Regions from separate parts of the Homo sapiens genome. Here region 1 is linked to region 2. The links come from fine-mapping of genetic effects on plasma protein levels. A gene starts in region 2. The other region holds a variant in brackets. All regions are shown on one strand. Distances are between the middles of the regions.

What was found. PIP is the chance, under the fine-mapping model, that this variant and not a neighbour inherited with it causes the effect. Protein levels are from antibody-based Olink assays in UK Biobank. Linkage for the fine-mapping came from a reference panel and not from the study's own genotypes, which makes the PIPs less certain.
Region 1: its variant is fine-mapped to the plasma level of the RGMA protein (UK Biobank, PIP above 0.99).

Annotation. Positions count from the first base shown.
Region 1 is chr15:93,044,502-93,047,327 of GRCh38, reverse strand. It overlaps RGMA (repulsive guidance molecule BMP co-receptor a), which reads left to right. Exons shown (of 4, transcript NM_020211.3): 4 at 1,623-2,826. The coding sequence ends at 2,330. Among named protein-coding and RNA genes, the nearest start is that of RGMA, 43 kb to the left of the region's middle. The variant A/G (reference allele first, on the strand shown) is at 2,528.
Region 2 is chr15:93,087,843-93,090,743 of GRCh38, reverse strand. It overlaps RGMA (repulsive guidance molecule BMP co-receptor a), which reads left to right and starts at 1,533. Exons shown (of 4, transcript NM_020211.3): 1 at 1,533-1,825. The coding sequence starts at 1,812. It overlaps LOC101927025 (a long non-coding RNA gene), which reads right to left and starts at 1,530. Exons shown (of 5, transcript XR_007064769.1): 1 at 1,467-1,530.

The DNA of each region.
Region 1 (2,826 bases), 43 kb after region 2:
TGGGAAAGGAGTGGAAGAAGGGGTGGTTTTTTCTCTCCCAGTTTCTCTGTTTCCAACCCAGAAACCTGCTTAGGGTTAGGGAGGAAAGAACAGCCAGACGCCACCCAGGACGCGGACGGCAGAGGAAACTCACCTGCTCCCCTGGCCACCGGCCCTCCTCCTCTCAGGCCTCCCACCCTATGGGCTTGTGGCCAAGAGAGCCCAGAGTCTGGAAACGCAGAGTCTAATCCCAGCTCTGCCTCTTGCTGGCTGTGTGACCTTAGGCAAGTTACTGCCTCTCTCTGAGCCTACATTTTCTCATCCGGAAAATTGAGAGTAATGTCACCGACCCTTGCAGTGTCACACGAGACTGGAAGTAATACATGCAGTGCTTAGCATGCTGTATGCAGCCAATGCCTCTGTGTCTGGCTCTCAGGAGAACAGTGCCACCCAGCCAGCTGCTGCTCCAGCAGCTCAGTCCAGCCCCTCACCCCTGGCCACAGGCTCCAGCAGAAAGGAGCCTCCCTGCTCCAGCCCCGGCCAAGGCTGCCCGTTCAGCCTGGAACCTCCATCTCCCTTTTACCGACCAGCACCTTGCTCCTTTCCTGTTCCCCTCCTCCATGACCCAGCTTGGGGACCCCTTTCAGCAGCCTTGGGACAGTGGCTTCTGCTTGCCTCTGCCTGCTTGCATGGATTTTGCCCTATTCATTCTTTCTTTGAGCATCATTTCCCTCCATTCCACCTGCTGTAATGTTCAGACATTTGCTTGGGTCCTTTGTCAGGAATTGTGCTCCAGTACCACTGTCATTATGCAAGATGATGTTTGCAAACCATATTCATTTCCTATCGCCACTGTAGCAAATTAGCATAAACTGAGTGGTTCAAACCAACAGAAATGTTTTATAATTGTGGAGGCCGGAAGTTGGGAATATGTCTCGTGGGGATAAAATCAAGGTATCAGCAGGGCTGGTCCTGGAGACTCCAGGGGAGAATCCATTCATTGCCATTTCCAGCTTTTGGTGGTTGCCAGCATCCCTTGGTTTGTGGCCACATCATTCGAATCTCTGCCTTGTTGAGCACATCACCTTCTCCTCTGTCCTAGTTAGTCAAATCTCCCTCTGCCTCCTTCTTATAAAGATACTTGTGATTCCATCTAGGGCCCACCCAGGTAATCCAGAATAATCTCTTCATCTCAGTGTTCTTAACCTAATCATATCTGCAGGGTCCCTTTTGCCATCTAAGGGAACATTCCCAAGTTACAGGGATTAGGGCATGTTCTTCTTGGGAGCCATTATTCAGCCTACCACACTGGGCTTTTGACCTTTTATTTTTAATTATCTATGCTTTTATTTTTCTGGTTCACTTCCCTATATAGTAAAAGAGCTAGTTTTCTACTTAGGGTAGTGGTCTAACATTTTTCTAAGTCACTTTTTAAAGTAAAAAGGGCAAGTTGTTTTCATTGAAAGAATGTGAAGTGCACAGCTGCGCAGGTGGAACTGATCTGTCCAACCTGGAGAAGGGAGTGTCTGGGGCATCCCTGGGGATCCTTCCTGCCCTCCTCTCAGTCTAGAGCATCTTAAGTGTGGGGCTGTGCCTCCTCCCACTGTGCCTCACCCACTCTCCTCTGCCCCTTTCCCCGGCAGCTCACCATCATCTTCAAGAACTTCCAGGAGTGTGTGGACCAGAAGGTGTACCAGGCTGAGATGGACGAGCTCCCGGCCGCCTTCGTGGATGGCTCTAAGAACGGTGGGGACAAGCACGGGGCCAACAGCCTGAAGATCACTGAGAAGGTGTCAGGCCAGCACGTGGAGATCCAGGCCAAGTACATCGGCACCACCATCGTGGTGCGCCAGGTGGGCCGCTACCTGACCTTTGCCGTCCGCATGCCAGAGGAAGTGGTCAATGCTGTGGAGGACTGGGACAGCCAGGGTCTCTACCTCTGCCTGCGGGGCTGCCCCCTCAACCAGCAGATCGACTTCCAGGCCTTCCACACCAATGCTGAGGGCACCGGTGCCCGCAGGCTGGCAGCCGCCAGCCCTGCACCCACAGCCCCCGAGACCTTCCCATACGAGACAGCCGTGGCCAAGTGCAAGGAGAAGCTGCCGGTGGAGGACCTGTACTACCAGGCCTGCGTCTTCGACCTCCTCACCACGGGCGACGTGAACTTCACACTGGCCGCCTACTACGCGTTGGAGGATGTCAAGATGCTCCACTCCAACAAAGACAAACTGCACCTGTATGAGAGGACTCGGGACCTGCCAGGCAGGGCGGCTGCGGGGCTGCCCCTGGCCCCCCGGCCCCTCCTGGGCGCCCTCGTCCCGCTCCTGGCCCTGCTCCCTGTGTTCTGCTAGACGCGTAGATGTGGAGGGAGGCGCGGGCTCCGTCCTCTCGGCTTCCCCATGTGTGGGCTGGGACCGCCCACGGGGTGCAGATCTCCTGGCGTGTCCACCATGGCCCCGCAGAACGCCAGGGACCGCCTGCTGCCAAGGGCTCAGGCACGGACCCCTCCCCTTCTAGTGCACGTGACAAGGTTGTGGTGACTGGTGCC[A/G]TGATGTTTGACAGTAGAGCTGTGTGAGAGGGAGAGCAGCTCCCCTCGCCCCGCCCCTGCAGTGTGAATGTGTGAAACATCCCCTCAGGCTGAAGCCCCCCACCCCCACCAGAGACACACTGGGAACCGTCAGAGTCAGCTCCTTCCCCCTCGCAATGCACTGAAAGGCCCGGCCGACTGCTGCTCGCCGATCCGTGGGGCCCCCTGTGCCCGCCACACGCACGCACACACTCTTACACGAGAGCACACTCGATCCCCCTAGGCCAGCGGGGACACCCCAGCCACACAGGGAGGCATCC
Region 2 (2,901 bases):
CACTCTAATGAGCGCCTAATTACCGAGTGAGCTCAGTGTTAGGAAGGAAAGGCACGGATGTGAGGACTCCCTAGAGGGTGGGGAAGATGTTGGAGCTGAGCTATGAAAGATGAAGAAATTGGTTATTCACTGAATGTCAGGGCACAGAATGTCAGGGCAGGAAGACCACACACACACACACACACACACACACACACACACACACACACACCCTACTATTCATAGATGAGGAAACTGAGGCCCAGCAGAGCTAGATGACTTGCCGAAGGTCAGAGCTAATTCTAGAAACCCATCCCCAATCCCTTCCTGCTAAACCACTTAATTTTATTTATATCCCAGCTATAGATTATACAAATACACTTGACAAATAAAACGGAGAATATTGAGTTAAAACCACATCTCTGAAGACCACACGCATAAATAACGATCGTGTTTTAATGCGGACGATACCTTTTCATTTTGCAAATCCAGAGTTCTCATCATATCAAAATTCAAGACAGTTTGTTCTGTAAGAAGGGGAAGGTCATAACCCTGTCTAGAATGTACTGGCAAATCTCTCTAACCGTGCAGTGCTAATTTGGGCCTGAGCTGTGTAACCAGACCGACTTCACGCTCCAGCTGGGGTTTCAGATCCACACATGGCGATTGGGTGGCTCTTTGCTGTTTCACAGCAAGGGTCCTTCCCTGGGCTCCCGGAGCCTCTGGGGATTTACTGCTCCCGACGTGGCCGTGTTCAAGCCACTGTGTGCATGCGCTTAATGTTGAAAACATTCTTTTGAAAAGCCCAGGAGATTCCACTCGCAATCTGTGCGTGTGCATGTAAAAGCGCAGAGACTGGAAAGAACCGCGGCAGAGCACACCCTGACCGAAGGTTACCGCGGGGGAGCCGCGGCCGTGGGAGAGCCGCGGCCGTGGGAGGGAGTGCGATACGGTCTTTTCACTCTAGACACTCCTGAGTTATGTACAATTCTACGCAAGAATGTATGCGTGTGTTAGCATGTAATACATATGTATTAGTTTTTTCAGGAAGATTCTTAAACAACAACAAAATCTCTATAGAACAAAGGTGCGTCTCCGCAGAGCGCAACAGCATTTGTCTTGGATGTAACCGCCTTCTCCAGAAATCTCAGAGGAACTCCCCTCGACCACCGCCTAACTGAAGGACACCGTGCGCTCCACCGCAACCCTGCGGGCGATTCGGAAAGTTGGAGGCGCCCCGGGGAGTCGCCGCACTTGCCGCCCGCGCCCCCTAACCTGAGCATTCAAGGAGTCTTGACTTGGCCGCTGGCGCACTCCGCACCCACCCAGCCGGTGCTGATGCGGGAGGGTGGGGCCGCGGCGGGGCGGGGCAACGCGAGCCCGCACCCCGCTCCTCCCCGCCCCTCCCTGCCGGCCCCGCCCGCGCGCGCCCCCCGCCCGCGGCCCGGGCGCCCGGCCCGCCCCCTCCCCTCGGCGCGCAAACGAACCTCGCGACGCCGCGCTCGGCGGCGGGCGGGGGCCGGGCGAGGGAGGGGGCTGGTCCCGGCCGCCCCACTCTGCAGTTGTCTCCCGAGCGCTGGCTGCGCCGCCCGAGCCGCTGGGCCGGGGAAGCACTGGCCGTTCGCTCCCGGGCCGGCTCCGCCAGGCGCTCGCAGGCATGCAGCCCGGGAGCAGGAGGCGCTCCCCGGGCCGCTGCTGAGCCGGCCGGGGCGGCGGGGACCAGCGCCAGCGGAGCCCCTCCCACCTTGCCCCGGGGCAGACGAGCGGCGCCCCGACACCCCCTCTTCTCCCGCAGCCCCGCCAGCGCCACCCCCCGCGGGCCGCAGGGGCTCATGCAGCCGCCAAGGTAAGCGCGGGTCGGGAGCCGGGCAGACCCGGCTCTGACATCTCCGAGGCGCCGCCGACACATGCCGGGGCCACGGCGCTGCTTTGGTCTTCCTTAGCCCCGCGTCTCATCTTGCTCCCATCTTGCCCACATTTGGAGCTTTGCTGCGCCTCTATCGCTTTAGCTGTTGGCAGCAGGAAAGTTTTTGTGGTTTGGTGTTTGTTCTTTTTTCCTAAAATACTCTCCCCCGGGCAGCCGCCAGCGCGCGTGGTTGGGCAGACCCGGCACACGTCCCTTACACCGTGTGCGGGCTGGGAGCTCCTTCCCTCAGCCCGGCTCGCGGAGCCCCGGACGGAGCCGGCCACCCGACTGTCCCGCCGTGAACCCCCATTGGCCCGCGCCGCCCGGGCCCCCGCCTCCCGCTCGACGCCCGGCTGCGGAGCTGCCTGGCCATCTCCTGCCCTCGGGGATGTCGGCGCAGTGCACCGCGTGGGCTCGCGTCCCGGCGGCCCTTTGCCTCGGCGCGCCGGCGTACGGGAAGGTGCGGACCTTGGATTGAGGGCCGAGGATGCCCATTGCCAAGCCGCCCCGGCTTTCCTAAGTGGACGGGAGGGCACGGCGACGATTCAGCGCCGGCTCGCGCCGCAGCTCAACCCAGGGTACAAGCCCGGGCATGGGGGACAGGTGTATTCAATGGGAGGGCGGGTGTGGGGGACGCTCGGGTGCAATTCGGGATTGCGTCTTATTAATGTAATTGTATTAGACTTGCTCGGAGGTAGAATCAGTTCTCCCAAATTGAGATTTCTAATGGGAGCCTGTGAGCTGCTATTATGTGGTGTGGTTTTGGGAGGTGTTGGGTTGTATTTATTTTATAAATTGGGTGTCTCGCGGGCGGAGTAGGGGAAGTAGCGCCATCTAGCGGAAGTGGTGAGCTGTGCATTCCTCTTAGGCTGCGAAGTTGTTGGGTGTTCTCAAAGTAGTCTCCCGCACAAGGTGGAGAGGCGGGAACCAGCCCTCGCCTCCAGGAAGGAGGCTACAGAAGCTCTCTGAGTATCGACGGTACCAGGGAGAACCCCGACCTCCCATGCTCAGCACAT